Homo sapiens: one gene and its partners. The protein of the gene in region 1 interacts with the protein of each later gene in a pairwise test. Each region holds a gene or a part of one and is shown on either strand. Other genes may lie near its edges.

Evidence for each region. Proteins that work in one complex are often made in the same cells at the same time.
Region 2: the proteins of GSK3A (region 1) and DEAF1 interact in binary tests that used the Homo sapiens proteins (3 or more experiments, as listed by UniProt).
Region 3: the proteins of GSK3A (region 1) and GSKIP interact in binary tests that used the Homo sapiens proteins (3 or more experiments, as listed by UniProt).

Annotation. Positions count from the first base shown.
Region 1 is NC_000019.10:42,232,587-42,239,621, reverse strand, and holds part of GSK3A (glycogen synthase kinase-3 alpha), read left to right. Parts: intron 1-2,680; coding exon 2,681-2,764; intron 2,765-2,905; coding exon 2,906-3,016; intron 3,017-4,943; coding exon 4,944-5,074; intron 5,075-5,162; coding exon 5,163-5,269; intron 5,270-6,238; coding exon 6,239-6,336; intron 6,337-6,416; coding exon 6,417-6,512; intron 6,513-6,939; coding exon 6,940-7,035. UniProt on the Homo sapiens protein: Constitutively active protein kinase that acts as a negative regulator in the hormonal control of glucose homeostasis, Wnt signaling and regulation of transcription factors and microtubules, by phosphorylating and inactivating glycogen synthase (GYS1 or GYS2), CTNNB1/beta-catenin, APC and AXIN1.
Region 2 is NC_000011.10:643,733-650,257, forward strand, and holds the end of DEAF1 (deformed epidermal autoregulatory factor 1 homolog), read right to left. Parts: intron 2,824-6,525; coding exon of another isoform or gene 2,797-2,823; exon of another isoform or gene 2,600-2,796; intron 923-2,599; coding exon 818-922; 3' UTR 501-817; downstream 1-500. UniProt on the Homo sapiens protein: Transcription factor that binds to sequence with multiple copies of 5'-TTC[CG]G-3' present in its own promoter and that of the HNRPA2B1 gene. Down-regulates transcription of these genes.
Region 3 is NC_000014.9:96,358,867-96,366,525, forward strand, and holds the start of GSKIP (GSK3B-interacting protein), read left to right. Parts: upstream 1-4,659; 5' UTR 4,660-4,702; intron 4,703-5,869; exon of another isoform or gene 5,870-6,400; intron 6,401-7,659. Other genes in the region: ATG2B (autophagy-related protein 2 homolog B), read right to left, coding at 3,949-4,110. UniProt on the Homo sapiens protein: A-kinase anchoring protein for GSK3B and PKA that regulates or facilitates their kinase activity towards their targets.

The sequences.
Region 1 (7,035 bases):
GGTCATAGAGCAAGTGCCCCAGTCAAGGCTGGAATCTGATTCCCAAACCCTCTACCTTAACCATTTGGTTACACTTCTTCCCAGGAGAGAAAGGGACCTGGCAGGGCTAGCGCGGGTGGTTCTGAAGGTCGCGCTCTTCCCAGGTGTTTGGCCAGCGCAGAATGGAATGGAGGTGCCCTGTGAGCTAGGAGAGGCTCAGGGAACTAGAAGGAGATGGAGGAAGTGGAAGTTGAGGAATAATTGGTGTTTAAGGGCCTGGCATTTGGAGCTTAGACTAGTCTGGATGTAGGAGAACTGAGCCTAGACTGGAAAGGAACCAGACCAGGGCCTCGGTCTTGGCAGGGAGGGCCCTTGGGCAGGAGGAGCTCCAGGGTGTCAGAATTTGATTGGAGTTGAGTTCCAGAAGTAAGAGGGATGTAGGGGCAGGGAGTTCCTAGGCCTCACTGAGGAATAGAGAATGGGGAAGAATGCTGAGACCGCATTCTGGGAAAAGTCCAATGCCTGGAGTCTGGGACTCAGGATCCTAGATAGAGTTCGAGGACCCAGATGCTTCCACGGGACCAGAGTGAGCTGGATGGCCACTACCTGTCTGTTGTTGCTTGTGCCAGGTAGGGGGGCAAGCCTCATGTGCCCATGCCTGATTTTTTTTTTTTGAGATGGAGTCTTACTCTGTCACCCAGGCTGGAGTGCAGTGGCACGATCTTGGCCCGCTACAACCTCTGCCTCCCAGGTTCAAGCGATTCTTGTGCCTCAACCACCTGAGTAGCTGGGATTGCAGGCATGGGCCACTATGCCTGGCTAATTTTTTTTTTTTGTATTTTTAGTAGAGACAGGGTTTTGCCATGTTGGCCAGGCTGGTCTCGAACTCCTGACCTCAAGTAATCCGCCCCCACCTCGACCTCCCAAAGTGCTGGTATTACAGGCATGAGCCAGCATACCTAGCCCTGATTTTTCAAGACAAACTGAAAACTGGATTTAGATGTGAAATCTTTTTTTTTTTTTTTTTTTTTTTTTTGAGACGGAGTCTCATGCTGTCACCCAGGCTGGAGTGTGGTGGCGTGATCTCGGGTCACTGCAACCTCCGCCTGCCGGGTTCAAGCGATTCTTCTGCCTCAGCCTCCCTAGTAGCTGGGACTACAGGCGTGTGCCACCACTCTCGGCTAATTTTTTGTATTTCTAGTAGGGACGGGGTTTCACCGAGTTAGCCAGGATGGTCTCTATTTTTTTTTTTTTTTTTTTAAGACAGAATCTCGTTCTGTCACTAAGGCTGGAGTGCAGTGGTGTGATGTCGGCTCACTGCAACCTCTGCCTCCTGGGTTCAAGCGCTGCAACCTCTGCCTCCTGGGTTCAAGCAATTCTTGTACCTCATCCACCTGAGTAGTTGGAATCACAGGCGTGCGCCACCATGCCCAGCTAATTTTTTTGTATTTTTAGTAGAGATGGGGTTTTGCCACGTTGGCCAGGCTGGTCTCGAACTCCTGGCCTCAAGTGATTTCCCTGCCTTGGCCTCCCAAAGTGCTGGGATTACAGGGGTGAGCCACCATGCCCAGCTGTTTTTTATTTTATTTTTATTTTAAGGCTGGGTATGGTAGCTCATGCCTGTAATCCTTGAACTTGGAGAGCCCGAGGCAGGAGGATTGCCTGAGACTAGGAGTTCAAAACCAACCTGGCCAACATAGCCAGGTTCTTTTAAAAATAATAATAATAATAAATTTTATCTTATTTATTTATTTATTATTATTATTTTTTGAGACAGAGTCTGTCGCCCAGGCTGGAGTGCAGTGGCGCGATCTCAGCTCACTGCAAGCTCCGCCTCCTGGGTTCACGCCATTCTCCTGCCTCAGCCTCCCGAGTAGCTGGGACTACAGGTGCCTGCCACCATGCTTGGCTAATTTTTTTTGTATTTTTAGTAGAGACAGGGTTTCACCGTGTTAACCAGGATGGTCTCAATCTCCTGACTTCGTGATCCACCCACCTCAGCCTCCCAAAGTGCTGGGATTACAGGCGTGAGCCACCACGCCTGGCCCTGGCCTATCCTTTTTAAAACTTTATTTTGGAGAAAAAAATCAGAAGGTGCCATTTGGCTTTTACATGTCAGCAATAAGTTGAAAAAAAATTTTTTTTTAAGTGGGGTGGCTGGGCGCGGTGCCTCACGCCTGTAATCCCAGCACTTTGGGAGGCTGAGGCCTGTGGATCATGAGGTCAGGGAGGCTGAGGCAGGTGGATCACAAGGTCAGGAGATCGAGACCATCCTGGCTAACGTGGTGAAACCCCATCTCTACTAAAAATACAAAAATTAGCTGGGCGTGGTGGTGCATGCCTGTAATCCCAGCTACTTGGAAGGCTGAGGCAGGAGAATTGCTTGACCCAGGGAGGCAGAGGTTGCAGTGAGCCGATATTGAGCCACTGCATGCCAGCCTGGCAACAGAGCAAGACTCTGTCTCAAAAAAAAAAAAAAATGGGGTGAAGAAAACACATCTGTGGCCTGGGTTTAACCTGTGGGCTTCCAGCTCCTGTGGGAGGGGAATAGTCTGGAGACAAGGAATTGGGGGATACTCCAGGGGACCTTGGAGCTGGGACACAGGGAGTAGCTGCCTGGCTGTTGTTGGGAGTGAGTGTGAGTAGGGAGGAGCAGCCGAGAGAGTTGGTTGTATTCTGAGACTCTCCCTTTGCCCTCAAGAACCGAGAGCTGCAGATCATGCGTAAGCTGGACCACTGCAATATTGTGAGGCTGAGATACTTTTTCTACTCCAGTGGCGAGAAGGTGAGATCTCGAGGTGGTGGTGGTGGGTTGCTCCAGCCATTTTCCTGCCTGCCTGCCTTTCCCCCACTGCTCCCTGCATACCTTCCTTCCCCCTCCTCACTCTTCTCACAGTGCCTCACACCTCTCCTTTGCTCCCTGCAGAAAGACGAGCTTTACCTAAATCTGGTGCTGGAATATGTGCCCGAGACAGTGTACCGGGTGGCCCGCCACTTCACCAAGGCCAAGTTGACCATCCCTATCCTCTATGTCAAGGTAGGCCAGCAGGTGGGCTGCTGGGACCCAGGCCCACAAAGCCAGGGGCTCTGGAGCCTCCTGCCTTTTATGGGATCCCTCATCCGCCAAGTTTATGTTGGTTTTTGGAGGCCCCATGTCCCCTGCTGTTGTTCCCATAACCCCCCGAGATGGAGCTCGCCTAACACAGGGGAGGGCCAAGGCAGGCAAGGCCTGACTGAATCAGGAAGGCAGCCTGACACCTGGGGTTGCAGAAGCTGCCAGGTAGTTGCTCAGGTCCATACAGGGAGTCCAGTGGCACCAGAGATGTTGGAGTTAGCTCAGGATAAGGGGGTGGTGGGGACCAGGACTGCACAGAGACAGCTGCTGAGGCCAGAGTTCGGGCCTTTAGAGCCTTGGCTGGGGGTAGGTGGGAAGGAGTTAGGGCTGGAGGAAGGTTAGCATCCACAGAGCCAGGAATGCATCTCCGTCCATCATCTGTGCAGGCTCATTCCCCAGTGCCTGGCATCGTGCCCTGGGTGTTACAGACCTTCAGGAGGTGTTTGAATGAATGAATGAATGATTGCAGCCCAGGGATGATGTGGCGAACAGGCTGGAGCAGCCTACTGCATTGGAAGGAGGTGGGTGGGTTTGTTTGCTGAAGGTCACTTGGGGCCCAGCTGCTGCTCCTGCTGGCTTTACGTACCAAGCACGGGTGAGCCGACGTGGGCTCTACCAGTGGTTGTGGCTGTTGGACCTCACTTCCCAGGAGGGGAGCTCTCTGGTTTGGCGAATCTGTCCTGTGGCTGCCTGCATACGGGTCCCAGGGCTGAGGAATTCCAGAGGCACCACTGACTGCGACCCAGGCCTTGGCCTTGAAGAGCTCTCAGTTTGGTAGGGTAGAAAGGCGTCATCACAGAAAACTATTAAATGAACTAGCTGCTGCCATACCAGAAGGAGCACAGGGAATTCTGGAAATGGAGGAAGCACCCAGCCTGGTTTGTGGGTGAGAAGGATCAAGGAAGGCTTCCTGGAGGAGACCAAGCACAGGGCAAGGAAGTGGCATCTTTGGCCGAGGGGAACTGGAATAAAAGGAAGGGGGCCTAGGAAGCAGCCATGTCAGGACCTGGTCTGTCTAGGCCCTGGGGGATGCAGCAGTAACTGAAACTCAAAATCCTGCTCTCACGGTACTTCTGTTCTAGTCAGTGGGAGGGAGAGTGGCAGGAAAATGGAGCTGGAGAGGGGGCAGGCTCAGGGGTGGTTTTGATTGTCGGATTAAGGAGCCAGTGGTTTTGGTGAGGGGGAAGCTGAGTGCCTGGCTCCCTAGCCTGTTTTATGACAACCTCCCGATGTACCTTACTCATCAGGCTTCTGCCAAGGGTTGTGATTAAAGCAGTGGTTCTCAGAGTGTGGTCCGGGGACCAGCATCAGTGCTGGAGAGCTTGTTGCAAATGCCTCATTCAGAACTCACTGATCAGAAACTCTAAGAGTGGGGCCCAGCAGTCCCTTTTTTTTTGTTTTTTTTGAGACAGGGTCTCTGTCACCCACGCTGGAGTGCAGTGGTGCGATCTCGGCTCACTGCAACCTCCGCCTCCTGAGTTCAAGTGATTCTTCTGCCTCAGCCTCCCGAGTAGCTGGGATTACAGGTGTGCACCACCACGCCCGGCTAATTTTTGTATTTTTAGTAGAGACGGGATCTCAACATGTTGGCGAGGCTGGTCTTGGCCTCCCAAAATACCGGGATTACAGGCGTGACCCGCCACGCCCAGCCAGTAGTCCCTGTTTTAACAAGTCCTTCAAGTGATTGTGGTGCACATTAAGAGAACCAAGGTTTCAAATGGGTTTCCCCAAAGCTGTGGGGGCAGCAGGGAGAGTGGGCCTGGAAGGGCTCTTCAGGCCAAGCTGGTGGGGTAGTGGTGCTGTATGGGGAAAGCTGGGCTAAAGTTCTGCTATCCTGTGCCCGCCGCAGGTGTACATGTACCAGCTCTTCCGCAGCTTGGCCTACATCCACTCCCAGGGCGTGTGTCACCGCGACATCAAGCCCCAGAACCTGCTGGTGGACCCTGACACTGCTGTCCTCAAGCTCTGCGATTTTGGCAGGTGGGCCTGGGGCATGTTGGGTGGCTGAAGAGGCAGGGGGGACCCCAACCCTTGCCTCACGTGTACCCCTGCCCATCTCTTCCCACAGTGCAAAGCAGTTGGTCCGAGGGGAGCCCAATGTCTCCTACATCTGTTCTCGCTACTACCGGGCCCCAGAGCTCATCTTTGGAGCCACTGATTACACCTCATCCATCGGTCAGAGTTATGGGAGGGTGGCGGGGGGAGTGGCAATCTGGGAAGTTTTGGAGTTTTCTGTGTGCTGTATGCCAAGCTTGGTGATGAAAGCTTAACTTCTGTTCTTGTATCCAGTCCTCACAAACTTAGGAGGCTGATGCTGTTGAATGCTAATTTTACAGATGAGCTTAGAGCTGTGAGGCCGCCTGCCCGCACTGGCACCACTAGGACTGGGCAGGACTGGGATTTGAAAGCTGACCTGACTCCAGAGTCCATACCAGCTCTGGAACCTCCCTGTCAGCCCTCTGTTCTCAGCTAGGGGGAAGGGCTGCTGGAGACCTTGGGGGAACCGGGAAGCAAGGCTTTGCCACCATGAAGGTGCAACTTGCTCCCAGGGCCTCTGTGTCCTTCCCTGTTTGTGGGGACAACTGCCATTTTCCAGGCATGAGGGGAAGTCTGAATTGAGGGAATGGGCATGAGAGTTTGAAAGGGCACCTTCCACAGCAGCATGACGAACTGTGGAGTCCTTAGGTATGAACTCGTGCTGTGGGGGTCAAGGTACAAAGCAGGGAGGGGTGAGACTGCCACGCTGCAGCTCTTCTCATGGGCAGGAGAGAGGCTGGAACAAGAGGAAGGCAGTCCAGGATTTAAGGCTGTACCTTCCTGTGGCCCAAAGAACATGGGTGCCTGTTGGCAGGTTTGGGCCTAATTTGGTCTGTCGTCCAAGGCTAGCGGGAGAGAAGGAGCTCATTGGGGTCCTTAGCAGAGAGAGGAACTGAGGGCTGGAAACACACCTAGACTAGAGAGTACAGCAAAGGCAGGGTCAAGGTCGGGCCCATGTTTCTAAGCTGCATGTGACCTTGGGCCAGGTGCTTTGTCTTTGAGAAAACGGGGCTCCTGACACTCTTAGGATGGCCATGAGGAATAAAAGCATTGGGAGGTTGGTGGCCCTACTCGCCTAGCCCTGACGCTCCCTCCATTTCCCCTCAGATGTTTGGTCAGCTGGCTGTGTACTGGCAGAGCTCCTCTTGGGCCAGCCCATCTTCCCTGGGGACAGTGGGGTGGACCAGCTGGTGGAGATCATCAAGGTGAGGGGCGGGGCTGGGCTGGGCAGGGGGTGGGGCTGAGGGATGGGGCCCTTGTCTCAGACCCCTCCCTCTCTTTACAGGTGCTGGGAACACCAACCCGGGAACAAATCCGAGAGATGAACCCCAACTACACGGAGTTCAAGTTCCCTCAGATTAAAGCTCACCCCTGGACAAAGGTGGGGCAGGGCTAGGGGCTCAGGGCAGTATGGCTGAGAGCTGGTCCCCCTTGGAGGTCAACTGTTCTGTGGACCTAGCCTCAGAATCACGGCTTGGGAGGATTTGAAGAGTTATCCAGGGATCAATAACATCCATCCGCTTTCAAAGTTTATGGCATTTTAAAAGTTGAGAACCCACAAGTAAATTCAAGATTCCAATTTTTATGGAGGGTCAGCAGGGCTCATATAGTCCCAGACCTGGGCTGCCTGCTTACCCGATACAAACTGACCTCTCCTTAGTGGTTGGGCCTTAGTTTCTTCATTTGGAAGGTGGGGGTGTGGGAAGCAACCAGTCATAACTTGCCGCAGGCACTGTGGCAGTGAGATAACAGGAGTATGCCAGTGTCCAGGGCATCTCACCCTCATGAGCCCTGCACCCATCCCTCAGGTGTTCAAATCTCGAACGCCGCCAGAGGCCATCGCGCTCTGCTCTAGCCTGCTGGAGTACACCCCATCCTCAAGGCTCTCCCCACTAGAGGCCTGT
Region 2 (6,525 bases), on another chromosome or scaffold:
ACACGCTGGACACGCCCCCTTGTGCCCCCCACAGGCTTCAGCCCTTTCTCCTCCACCTGGCGCCAGGGCCATGAGAAACAAGGGGGAGACCAGGAGGCCATGAGGCTCTGCGTGTGGATCCCTGGACCGAGGCCACCAAGCTGTCCACGTGGACTGAACAGGCCGTGCTGGACCGTCGGGCTCGCTCAAGCAGCCAGGGCACAGGAGGCACCATGTGCCCCGAAACCTGGCGGGAAGGGCCGTAGGCCTGCTGCACCTCCCAGCAGCCACGAGGGTCTCGTGGAACAGAAGGAACGAAGACCTCCTGGACTACACGAGCCACCAGACGCCAGGGCTTCAGCCCGGCCGCGCTGCCCCGTGCACCGGAGGCTCCGGCCTGGCCGCGCTGTCCCGTGCACCAGAGGTGCGGTGGGCTTGGTTTTCCCACCTGCGCAGTAGGAGGAAGGGGAGGAAACCCCCCCCCGAGGGCTGGCACTGCAACCGGCCGTGTGGGGCAGGGAGACCTTATTTACACTTTATTGACAGACACAACACGTATGTATGTGCGTCGCAGCACAGGCCCTGTGGGCAAGACCGGACGCTCATGATCCCAGGGATAAAAAATCTGTCCGCGAGCGGGCAGGGGGCCCGGGCAGGGGGAGTGCGCTTCCCAGGGCACCATTCGCTTAAAGTGTGTTAATGACTTGTCCAGCAAGTTTCTTTACCTTCCCACACCCCTCTTCTCAACGTCCCCCCAGAGTCCTCAGGGGGGCCTTCGACCTGCAAAAGCCTCACAGGAGTGCGAGGGGCCCCAGCTCCCAGGGCGGCCGATGGAGCCTCACACGGTCACCTTCTCCATCACGCTTTCAGCCACGTGGACTTCGTCTGCCTGGACGGTGACAGCTGCTGACTGGCCGCATATGTGCTGGTGATCCTTCCAGTCCTGGAAGGGAGGACACACCCATGTCAGCAGGGTCAGTGGGTGGAGCAGGGTCTGGGCAGGGTCCCCAAGGCAGACCCCAGAGGGTGCAGCCCTCTGTAACCTCACCTGGAGGTGCTGAGAATGCCCTCCCCAGCCCCCGTGCGCCCAAACTCTGGTGGGCTCTGCTCCAATACAGCCTTCCCCACACTCTCTTGGTTTGAGGAATTGGATCAAAAGGCAAACAACAGGCAGGGCACGGTGGCTCACGCCTGTAATCCCAACACTTTGGGAGGCCCAGGAGGGTGGATCCCCTGAGGTCAGGAGTTCGAGACCAGCCTGGCCAACATGGTGAAACCCCGTATCTACTAAAAATACAAAAATTAGCTGGGCATGGTGGCAGGCACCTCTAATCCCAGCTACTCGGGAAGCTGAGGCAGGAGAACTGCTCAGCCCTGGGAGGCAGAGGTTGCAGGGAGCCGAGATGGTGCCACTGCACTCCAGCCCGGGTGACAGAACAACTCCATATCAAAAAAAAAAAAAAAAAAAGTCAAACAACAAACCAGGGTAAGACTCTCCAAACCAGTTGTTTTGTGTTAGGGATGTAAACAAAAAATATCACACATGCAGAAAAACATTTAAATATGTAAATATTACATATGTAAATTACGATCAAGTTCTGTGGGGGTTTTTTTGTTGTTTTTCGGACAGAGTTTCGCTCTTGTTTCCCAGGCTGGAGTGTAACGCGCAATCTCGGCTCACCACGACCTCTGCCTCCTGGGTTCAAGCAATTCTCTTGCCTCAGCCTCCCTAGCAGCTGGGATTACAGGTGCACGCCACCACACCTGGCTAATGTTTTGCATTTTTAGTAGAGACAGGGTTTCACCATGTTGGTCAGGCTGGTCTCGAACTCCTGACCTCAGGGGATCTGCCCGCCTCGGCCTCCCAAAGTGCTGGGATGACAGGTGTGAGCCACTGCGCCCCGCCCCAGTTCTGTTTTTAATGGCAAAGATGAAAAAGCAAACTGGAACCAGCCCGTGGCTGCAGAGAAAGGAGGTGGGGGATGGTGCCTGGGAGAAGCCACAGCTCCTGTGAGGTCAGCACACAGAACCAGGCTCTGCCTCCCTGCTACGTCGAGCACCTCGGAATGGAGCAGAGCTCTAGAGGAAGCGCCAGGTGCTGAAGCTGAGACGGCCTCGTCAGACAGAGGCAGCTCCGTGCACGGGGGCGTGATAGGTACGTATATGACACACAGAGCAGAAATAAATGCTTCCAAATGGTGACAGAGTTATTCCCTAGAGAGCAGAATTCCAGCTGATTATAATAAAAGAGCAAAATTAGGCCGGGCGCAGTGGTTCACGGCTGTAATCCCATCATGTTGGGAGGCCGAGGTGGGCAGATCACCTGAGGCCAGGAGCTCGAGACCAGCCTGCCCAACATGGCAAAACCCCATCTCTACTAAAAATACAAAAACTAGCCGCCTGTGGTCATGCGCACCTGCAATCTCAGCTACTTGGGAGGCTGAGGCACAAGAATCACTTGAACCTGGGAGGCAGAGGTTGCAGTAAGCCAAGATTGTGCCACGGCACTCCAGCCCGGGCGACAGAGTGAGACTACGTCTCAAAAAAAAAAAAAAAAAAAAAATTAAAATTACCTGGTAATAGACTATAAATCTACATAGCATGAAAGCACATACATCAGCAAACTGCAGCATCGGGTGCAGACCCACCGCCCGCCCCTCCCGGGCCTCCACTCTGGGGCAACCAGGAAGGGTTCCGGTTCCTGCCGAGACTCTGTGTGGGGTGAGGGGCCTGCACCCCTCATGGGAGCTGCCCCCCGTGAGAGGATGTGGGCGGCGGACAAGGCCCCCAGGAGTTCTAGATGCTTCCTTCTCTGGTCTACAGGTTTGAGCCACTCCCTGGGGCCTGTGCAGATGGAGGGAGAGAGGGCGCACATCAGTGTTGACTCTGAGCTACAGAAGCTTCCATCAGGTTCTTCCAGCAAAGAGGCAAAGGCCCAGGGTTGACTTTTAAAATCAGAACTACTCAGTTCTTTTTTAAAGCAAATTTTTCCATCTTAAACATCAATGTGATGCTTCTTACAGTATAATGCTAAAACACTTTTGAAAAAAAAATCATTATCTGAAAAGCCAGAATTAGAAGTTAGCGTTTCAGTTTTTGAAAAACGGAAAAAAATGGTTAAATTCACAAGAAGCTAACAATGAAAGTGCCTGATACAAATAAATGAGAAAAGCCAACATCACAGACTGTAAAAACAATGACTTCGGGAGGTTGAGGTCACTTGAGGTCAGGGGTTGGAGACCAGCCTGAGCAACATAGCAAAACCCTATCTCTATAAAAAAAAAAAAATGTTTTAAAATTAGCTGGGTGTGGTGGCTCATGCCTGTGGTCCAAGCTACTTGGGAGACAGAGGCAGGAGGATCACTTGAGCCAGGAGATCAAGGCTGTAGTGAGCCGTGATGGCACCACTGGACTGCAGCCTGGGTGACAAAGCGAGACCCTGTCTATAGAAAACCTAAAATAGGCTGGGTACGGTGGCTCATGCCAGTAATCTCAGCACTTTGGGAGGCCAAGGCAGGCAGATCATGAGGTCAGGAGTTCAAGACCAGCCTGAACAACATGGTGAAACCCCGTCTCTGCTAAAAATACAAAAATTAGCCGGACGTGGTGGCGGGTGCCTGTAATCCCCAGCTACTAGGGAGGCTGAGGCAGGAGAATCGCTTGAACCTGGGAAGTGGAGGTTGCAGTGAGCCAAGATCGCGCCGCTGCACTCCAGCCTGGGTGACAGAGCCAGACCCTGTCTCAAAAACAGAAACAAAACCAAAAACAAACGAACAAATAAAAACCAAAAATAAGTAATGAAATAAAAACAGTGACTAAAAATCCAATTAAAACACAATCCAAATCTGACTTACAGTGATCCAGGCCTCACAAATGAAAATAATGATGCGTGGGGCTTGCTTTAAAATGCTCAGCCCTCAGCCCAAAGAGAGAGGGGGACAAGCCAGGAGGGCAGGCGCTAAAGCAGCTGATACAGGTGAGGGCGACGGGCCTCTCCTGGGCGATCCAACTCATGTGCACGTCTCACATTTTCCAAAGTTAAGGATTAAAAGAAAAGTGTTGCCACCACAGCACGTAGGTGACTCAATCCAGGCAGTGCTGGGAGCAGGTGGGTGGACTTGACCCAGGCGGTGCTGGGAGCAGGTGGGTGGACTTGACCCAGGCGGTGCTGGGAGCAGGTGGGTGGACTTGACCCAGGCGGTGCTGGGAGCAGGTGGGTGGACTTGACCCAGGCGGTGCTGGGAGCAGGTGGGTGGACTTGACCCAGGCGGTGCTGGGAGCAGGTGGGTGGACTTGACCCAGGCGGTGCTGGGAGCAGGTGGGTGGACTTGACCCAGGCGGTGCTGGGAGCAGGTGGGTGGACTTGACCCAGGCGGTGCTGGGAGCAGGGGATTCCTGTTGGGGCTTCATAACATGCATAAACTCGTGTATACTTTTGTGTACATACCAAGTCCTCTACAATTAATTTTTAAAATTATCACTGCCTTTTTTTTTTTTTTTTGAGACGGAGTCTCCCTTTGTCTCCCAGGCTGGAGTGCTGTGGCACGATCTCGGCTCACTGCAAGCTCCGCCTCCCGGGTTCATGCCATTCTCCTGCCTCAGCCTCCCGAGTACCTGGGACTACAGGCGCCCACCACCACGCCAAGCTAATTTTTTTGTATTTTTAGTAGAGACGGGGTTTCACCATGTTAGCCAGGATGGTCTCGATCTCCTGACCTCGTGATCCGCCCGCCTCGGCCTCCCAAAGTGCTGGGATTACAGGCGTGAGCCACCGTGCCCAGCTGAAGGCAGCTTTTTAAAGAACAGGATCTGAGGGAGGCTTGAGGACAGGGTGTCCTGGGCTGGAGGTCCGGCTGGAAGGCAGCTTTTAAAAGAACGGGATGTGTTCGTTCTGTAGGTGAAAGGAGCTCAGTAAGTGCTTATATTGGGGCCCAAATAGTGTTTGCCAGGAATGTATACACTCAGCCTCTGCAGTACACTTTCCCTGCTTGAGGAAATTCTATCCTCCTACTGAAACTGAGATAAATTAAAATGTATATTGTAATACCTATAGCAGTAAGAAAATAACAACTTTAAAGATACTGTTTAAAAATGTTCAACAAAAGAATTGAAGTGGTACACTAGAAAACACAACTAGAAAATACACATTTAACAGAAAAGAAGGCAGTGAAAGAACAGAGGAGCAAAACATGAAACATAAACTGCAAATATAAACACAAATCCACTCACATTGATAATTACATTAAACATGAGATTAGGTTTTGCGCAGTGGCTCATGCCTATAATCCCAGCACTTTGGGAGGCCAAGGTGGGAGGGTTACTTGAGCCCAGGAGTTCAAGACCAGCCTGGCCAACATGGCAAAACCCTCTCTCTACGAAAAATACAAAAATTAGCCTGGCATGGTGGTGCATGCCTGTAATCCCAACTACTTGGGAGGCTGAGGCAGGAGAATCGCTTGAACCCGGGAGGCAGAGGCTGCAGTGAGCCGAGATTGCGCCACTGCACTCTAGCCTGGGCAACCGTGCGAGACTCCATCACACACACACACAACAACAACAACAAAAACGGGCATGGTGGCGGGTGCCTGTAATCCCAGTTACTTGGGAGGCTGAAGGAGGAGTATTGCTTGAACCCGGGAAGCGGAGGTTGCACTGAGCTGAGATTGTGCCACTGCACTCTGGCCTGGGTGACAGAGAGAGACCCCACTTAAAAAAAAAAACAAAACAGCTGGGTGTGGTGGCTCACACCTATAATCCCAGCAGTTTGGGAGGCCGAGGCGGGCGGATCACTTGAGGTCAGGAGCTCAAGACCAGCCTGACCAACATGGTGAAACCCTGTGTCTACTAAAAGTACAAAAATTAGCCGGGTCTGATGGCACACTCCTGCAGTCCCAGTTACTCGGGAGAATGAGGCACGAGAATCCCTTAAACCCAGGAGGTGGAGGCTGCAGTGAGCCGAGATTACGCCAGTGCACTCCAGCCTGGGCAACAAAGTGATACTCTGTCTCAATTCAAAAAACAAAACAGGCCGAGTTCCAGTGCGGTGGCTCACACCTGTAATCTTAGAACTTTGGGAGGCTGAGGCGAGTGGATCACCTGAGGTCAGGAGTTCGAGACCAGCCTTGCCAACACGGAGAAACCCCATCTCTACTAAAAACACAAAAATTAGTTGGACGTGGTGGCTCATGCCTATAATCCCAGCTACTCAGGAGGCTGAGGAAGGGAAATCACTTGAACCCGGGACGTTGAGGTTGCAGTGGGCTGAGATCGTGCCATTGCACTCCAGCCTGGCGACAGAGTGAGATTGTCTAAAAAACAAAAACAAAAACAAAAACAAAAACAAAACAAAAAAGTAGATTAAACACTCCAATCAAAAGGCAGAGACTAGTGTGGTGGTTCACACCTGTAATCCCACCACTTTGGGAGGCTGAGGCGGGTGAATCTCTTGAGGTCAGGAGTTTGAGACCAGCCTGGCCAACATGGTGAAACCCGTCTCTATTAAAAATACAAAAATTAGCTGAGTGTGGTGGCAGGAGCCTGTAATCC
Region 3 (7,659 bases), on another chromosome or scaffold:
AGAGCTTTTTATTCTTCTGTTTAAGGGTATTTTGCTTTCAATTATCATCAATGAGTTTCACGCATATAAACAGAAAAAGTGAAGGTAACACTCTAGTCTCCAGGTGACCTTTGACAAATAATCAGTAATCAATGTTTCTTGAACTGAAGATAATTTTATTAAACACCAAGAGAATATAAGCAGCAATCGAAACATTCTTAAACTGAAGTTAAAAGGCCTCAGTGGCCAGGCGTGGTGGCTCACGTCTGTAATCCCAGCACTTTGGGAGGCCGACATGGGCAGACTGCTTGAGTCCAGGAGTTCAAGACCAGCCTGGGCAACATGGCGAAATCCCGTCTCTACAAAAAATACAAAAAGTAGCCAGGTGTGGTGGCATGCACCTGTAGTCCCAGCTACTGCAGGGAGGGGAGGAGAGGTAGGAGGATCGCTTGAGCCTAGCAGGTTGAGGCTGCAGTAAGCCTAGATCACGCCACTGCACTCCAGTCTGGGTGACAGAGTGAGACCCTGTCTCAAAAAAAAAATAAAATAAAAGGCCTCAGTGTAATAAATTGTTAATGTGTATCTTCTTGAGCTCCTGTAAGAAAAGGGTCTTTGTTTAGTTCACTGCTATATCCCCCAGCCCCTCACAGTGGCACATGCTAAGAGCTCAATAAATGTACTGAATCGATTAATGAAAGAAATTCCATTTAAAAATCAAAAATAAAGGCACAGTCATAGAGTTAAAAAGGAATGAGTCATTAAATCCAACTTCCCACCCCAAATAGAATTTCCTCCTTTCAACATTTTGCCATTTCAACCACTTCTAGGGACAAGGAGTTTATGAAATTTTTAGACAGTCTATTCCAATGATGGAACAATCCCAAACCCCTTGCCTCTATTTCTCCCTCCACTTCATGCCACGTTTAAGGTAGTAATCTCCAAAACTGGATGCATATATCCTAAAGTATTATCAGATGATTCATAAGGATGTGAGAGGAAAATGAGACATTCTATATTAAATTTTCCAAATTTAGATTGAAAAGTTGTACTTATATTTAATATACAAATGGGCACTGGCACCTTCCTTCAAGCCACATATCAAACTGGTACAAAGAGAAAACTAGTAGTTCCACAACAGAGAAGGATTAAGAGTGGTGCCCTCAGTTGGATGTTCCTTCCACTTCTGCACACTGAAACATTTCCACATACATTCTATAGAATAAAACCAGACCTTTAAACAGTAGAATCTTTGTAAAGAGAAAGTGAATGGCAATTACCTTCTGGTTTCCTGGTTTCTCCTATGGCCAAGTGTTTAAGGGTTGGATTTAAAGATAAGCATTTTCCTTTTACACAGAGAAGAATTCTCCACTGACTATTTATGTATTTATGACAATGACTATCAGTAGTACATGCTACCTAGCAGATATTTTCCAAAAAACAAAACATACTTAATCTGTCTTTTCAAAATAAAGATAGCACTTTAATAATGAGTAAGAAAGCAACCACTTTTCAAAGACTACTTGTACTATGAGGAGAACATTTGAAAAACTGTATTTGGAAATGTTTCCATTGTTCCATGATTTTGTTGCTGAAAACAATGTCTATTAAAAACATTGCTTATTTTTTAAGTCATTATCTATATAGTTTACAAAATGTTTAAAAACATGAAAAGACTATTCCAACCAATCTAAGTCTTCTGAACAAAGAGCTTGAAAAACTGAATTTTAAACCTAATTGTGTGTATATATGCAATGTCAATTAGCCATAATAGAAAAACTAATTGAGATCAGGAATGAAAGGAATGTCATTGCTGAGTTCAACAAAATTCTTTGCATAATTGATCATTTAGAATTGAAACAGTAGGAGTACAGCAATTCTTCAATTAGCATCAGTTTTTCCATTAGGATCTGTGAATCTCCGAAGGTACCTTTTTTTCAGTCATGTAAGTCATTAAAATCAAGTATCTGGCTGGGTCCTATGGCTCATGCCTGTAATCTGAGCACTTGGGAGGCAGAAGTGGGAGGACCACTTGAAACCAGGAGTTCAAGACCAGCTTTGGCAACAAAGCAAGAGAATGAATCCTCTACCAAAAAAAAAAAAAAAAAAAAATCAAGTGTGAAAATAAACTGAATTTGGAATCAGAACTCTGAACAGCTGTATCTAAGGGTCACACTAAGATTTATCCTAACCATCAACACAGCACATGAAAATAAATCAGCAACAGCAAATGTTTACTGGATGCTTTGACATTATCATTTTAGTTTACAAAACCCGCCCATCAAGAACAAAACATCATCCTCAGATTAAGTTTAGTAATAAATCATTTTGCCAATGATTCTGAACTCAAACTATAAAATTCAAATATCACTACCTCTGATTTCCCATAAGGACTAAATAAAACCTCACAAATGAAAGTGCCTAGTACAATGCCTGACATAAATACATACTCAATAAACATTAACTGCCTTTCTTTTGATCTTAGGCCATGTGATGTAATACTTGCTAGATGTGTGATGGGGCAAACTGCTTAACTCCATCTGTAAAATGGAAATATTAATGCCCACCTTATAGGGTTAAAGTCATTAAAGGATAATGCATACAAAGCCCTTCCACCCACAAAAGGCATTAATAAATCCTGAACCCTCTTTTTTCAAGATAACCTATTCATAACTGTATCAAAAGTATAGAATCATGGGTTGTTGAATTCAAAAATATCCTTCAGAATCCCTATCTTTTGGAAGAATTACAGGAATACAATACCATAAGACGGACGACACAGAGATGAAGTGTGTGCTCCATTAGTGTTTACTGAACTCAGGTGAATTGCTAAGTCCATTATCACTCGGCTAATTGTGGCGGTCTGGAGAGTCTCTCCAGGGGTAGGACTCTCACCTCCTGGTGAGCGACTGGGTCTTACTGCTCTCAAACCAGGGCTCTTTCCACTATCTTGTGTCCTCTCCCTAGTTTATGTCAGGTACATACTGATAAAATTATATACTGATTTATAGTCTCTAGCACAAATTCGCTTAAGGGTCATAATAAGGTATTTCCATAATTTAAGATTTTCTGTGGCTAAGGAAGTAAGGGTTGGGCAAAGGGTAGAAGTCACTCTATTCCTGTCAAACCCAAAAGTGAATATACTTTAAGTAAAATGCTATGCATTGAACACACAAATGCAGGTACGACTGCATGTGGTGAGTCGAAATTCAGATGAAGCACCTGTATAGCAATGAGTGAATTCACAGCCTCTAGATGACAAGTAGAAGGCAGGTTTTAAAATGTCTGAAAATTGCAACTTCAGCGCTTTTGCAACACCTGCTTTTACGATCTGTCACGTGGAGCAAAGAGGCATAACTCAACAGCACTACTAGGGCCAGACGACCATTCACAGGCTGGATACACAAACCTATCTTGTAAACATATAATCAAGCAAAAGCAGGCAAACCGGCACAAGAGGCCTTCACCTAACTTTCTTCCAGATGGCAAACGCTGCACGATGACAAACAAGGCAAACATGGTGCGCAAGCAGCCAACCCAAAACAAATAACTAGGGATTCTGACATCCAAAGGTCCTCTTCATCCTTAATCCTTCCAGAATGTCATCCCACAAGGCAGGGTTTGTTTGCCACAAAACCCTGCGGCCCCTCACATCCCGAGGGACAGTTCTGGTCACCTCCTCCCACGGACCTATTGAGCCTGCTTCACAGACCCCCGAAGCACTGACTCAATTATTCCCACAGTGTAGATTCCATTACATCTGTTAAAGTTTCCGGAACACGTGATTTAGGAGAGCAAACTTGTTAGAAACAGATTAAACAACACTCTAACACATTTCTCTGAGCCGTGTCACACTCGGGTCCAAACAATTCCCAAGGAGGGACTGACTGTCACCAATCTTGGATGGCACTGGTTCAAAGCGCCCTAAAGAGGGGAGCGAGCCCCGCCCGGCTCGCCGCCGGCAGCTCTTACCCATTTGTCCAAGGGGACCTGGGCGAGGGACCCGGTGCCTTGGTACAGGTCCAGGCTGAGCTGCTCCAGGCTCAGCTTCTCCTGCAGAAAGTGGCCCAGGTACCTCTGCAGGAGGTACCGGCAGGCCCTCTTCTTGATGGACTCCGAAAACGGCCAAGGCATAGTGACTGCTGGCAGCTGGGCTGACTGCGGCTGCGGGTTGCGACGGCTCCGGCCTCGGGGTAGCGACTCCGGCTCCAGGCCGCGGCGGGGCCTAAGCCTGGGGCGGCCCCTCCATCCCTATTTGGTGCCGGGAGTCCCTCAGGGAGACCCCATCGCCGGCGCCGCACCGCTCGCGCTGGGCCTGGCGGAGGCAAGACGCAGAGGGGTCCTCCTGGCCCCAGGCCAGGGGACTTCCGAGGAGGGTCCCAACCGGCTCGGAGAGAGTGCAAGAGAGCGCGAGAGGAGGCGGCAGGGGCTGAGGCAGCCACCGCCACTGCCGCCGCGCGACGAATTTGTTGTCATCCGCGAGGCGCGTTCCCGGCTGTAGGGACGCTCCTGGCGCGTTCACGAGACCCAGACTCCCGGCGCGCCGCCGGGCGCTGGCGGAAGTGACGCCACACTGGGGCCGCGGAAGGCGGGCAGAAGGGCGGGGGCTGGAGCAGTTCCGGCTCCGAGGGGGCGGGGCGGAAGAAGGCGGGGAGGGAGGGGGCGGCACCGCCGGTCGGCTCCAGTCGCCTCCGGAGGAAGGAAGAAGAGGACGCCGGGCGCGCAGGTGAGCGGCAGCCGGGGTGGCTGCGGGCGAGGGGCGGCCCCCGAGAAGGGCTAGGGGCTCGGGGCGCCGGCGGGCCGTCAGGCCTTCCGGATGGGGACGCGACGCCATGCAGCTGGCTGGGCCGAGAGGGGCGGCAGGCTGCAGGGGCCCCGCGCCCGTGTTAAGAGGGGTCTGGGGGCCGGTCTGGCCGGCCTGGCTCTCCCGGCTCCCCTCAGACCTCGGCGCCCCGGAAACGCACACTTGGGGCTCCGCCGTCTCCGCTGGGAGGACTGGAGCCCTTCTCGAGCATCCCCGCCCGCACCCGAGCATTGACCGGTGCCCATTGTCAGCAAGTTCTTCGGCCCCCGCCTCATTCAGGTATTGTTTCTGAGGCAGCTTCTTCGTTGCCGTTTGCCTGGCGGTTTGCAGAGCGCTTCTCGCATACGCTCGCTTAATCCTGGGTGTGTCATAGCAACGATCAGGAAACTTGGGTTTTCGAAGCATCTGTGGGCAAAACTGCATTCCTTGAGAAATGCTAAAGGCTCCTGACCCCGCCGGAACCTGGGTGAAGAACTTGGGCTGTTCTGGCAGTCTGCGCAATCGTATTTCTGCCTTTTGGGAGGTAACTCCTGCAGAGGCGGAGCCGGCTGTTAAGTTAAGTCAACCTCGAAAGGCCTGGGTGCGGGTGTTCTATGGCCCAGAAGCCAGATGTCCTTCGTTAGAATCCCGGCACTGACACCTATTAGCCGCCCAGCCACTTTGAGCGGCCACTGCCCTCCCCGAGCCCACGTTGCCTCCTTTGCCGAGTGTGAGCGGATTAAAATCTTATGTGCATGGATTTGTTGGGAAGATTAAATGATATGAGTAGGGCACGAACCTGAACAGAGTCCTGAAACATACAGCTGTTTAATCACAGTGAATTAAGACGACCAGTTTAAGGAGTGAAATGTTTACTGTCTCGGCAACTTTCATGAATGCCTTGGAAATACAGCCCAAAATATTGGTAGATGGAGAAACATCTGGTTCCCCTTTCCACAACCACCTTTTCGTTTTAGAACCAGGGTACTTTGTATGCAGTTGCTTGGATTGTTGATTTCCCTCATTCTTTGTAGACTCATCTCAAGTATTCTCAGTAACTTAGATTCCCTTGCTCTTCATTCAGAAATATTTGTTAAGGTCCATTAAATGAAAGTCACCACAGTTGATCATGTGAACAGTGTCAAGAATCAGGCCGAACCTTCAAGGAGTTTATGTTCTAAAACGGAAGCATGGTGGTACCTGCTTGTGGAGGCTGAGGCGGAAGGATCGCTTGAGCCCAGGACTTTGAGGCTGCATAATTGCATTGACGCTATCCATAGAGTGCCTGCAATTTCAAATATCAGAAAGGATCGTACGAGCTATGATCATGCCACTGCACTCCAGCCTGAACCACAGAGCAAGACCCTTTCTCTCAATAAAGTGGAAGTTTGTTCATTTATTCAGTAAATATTTATTGATTGCCTTCTGTGTGCCAAGCACTGTTCTAGGTACTGGGATTACAGCAGTGAACAGATAAATCTCTTCCTTCCTGGAACTTACATTTTATTGAAGGGAGGAGACATACAATAAATGAGTGAATAATATGCTTTGTGGTGATAAGGGCTGTTGGAAAAACGAAAGCAATGTAAAGGGAGTGGAGATGGGGAAGAGAGAAGGGACTTGCCATTTTTATATGAGATGGTAAGAGAAATTCTCTTGTTTAATAAGATTACATTTTAGCAGAAACTTGGAGAAAGCTGGGAAGTGAGGCACATGTATACCTGGAAGAGTTGTTTTCCATGCAAGGGGAACAGCAAGTGCAACGCCCTGTCACGGGAGAATGCTTGATGAATTTAGGGAACATCAAGAGTGAGTGAAGGAAAAAGTAGAAGCTGGGCAGTTTGGGGGTGGGGGGTGGGGCGGGCGGGGCGCAGAGGAAGCACATCATGTAGGGCCTCGTAGGCCATTGATAAGAACTTTGGAGCCGGGCACAGTGGCTCACTCCTGTAATCCCAGAACTTTTGGGAGGCCGAGGTGGGCGGATCACTTGAGGTCAGGAGTTCAAGACTAGCATGGCCAACATGGTGAAACCCTGTCTTTACCAAAAATATATAAAAAATCAGTCAGGTGTGATGGCGTGCACCTGTAATCCCAGCTACTTGGGAGGCTGAGGCAGGAGAATTGCTTGAACCCGAGAGGCGGAGGTTGCAGTGAGCCGAGATTGTGCCACTGCACTCCAGCCTGGGCAACAGAGTGAGACTCTATCTTAAAAAAATAAAAAGAACTTTGGCCTTTACTCTGGGTGAGGTGGATTTAGGAGAGGAGTGACACAGTATGGCCTAAGTTTCTATGGGATCATGCTAACTGCTGTTAAGAATAGTCTGGTGTGGAAGTGGGAGGGCCAGAGTGAAAACAGCAGAACCAGTTAGAAGGATATCACCGTAATGCAAGGAAAAGATGACAGTGGTTTGGACCAAAGCGGTAGCGGTGAAAATGATTAGTTAGAAGCAGTTGGATTCTGGATATATTTTGAAGATAAGACATGTTTGTAAATAATAATTCTAATATTTGCCATAAAAGGAATACAAACAAGGTGGTATGAAAAGGCAAAGGTGGGATCTTGCAAGAAATTAGAATAGGCTTTGGAAGGTTTGAAATAGACTTCTGACAAATAGATACAATTTGGACTTCTTTCAGCAGTTATTAAATAAGTGGTTTCCTTTTTCAATATAGAATTGCATTCGGGCTATCCATAGAGTGCCTGCAATTTCAAATATCAGAAAGGAAAATTAAAACGACGGTTTTGCAATAACAAATATGCTCTATTCAGAGTATTGTGTGTTGCCTTGTAAACTTTATGCTTTCTAGGAGAAATTCAGTATAAATGTTAAGGTTTAGGACCTGTCATTATGATATCTTTGGCTACAGTAGGGTACAAACTCATCTCAAATCACAGTGCC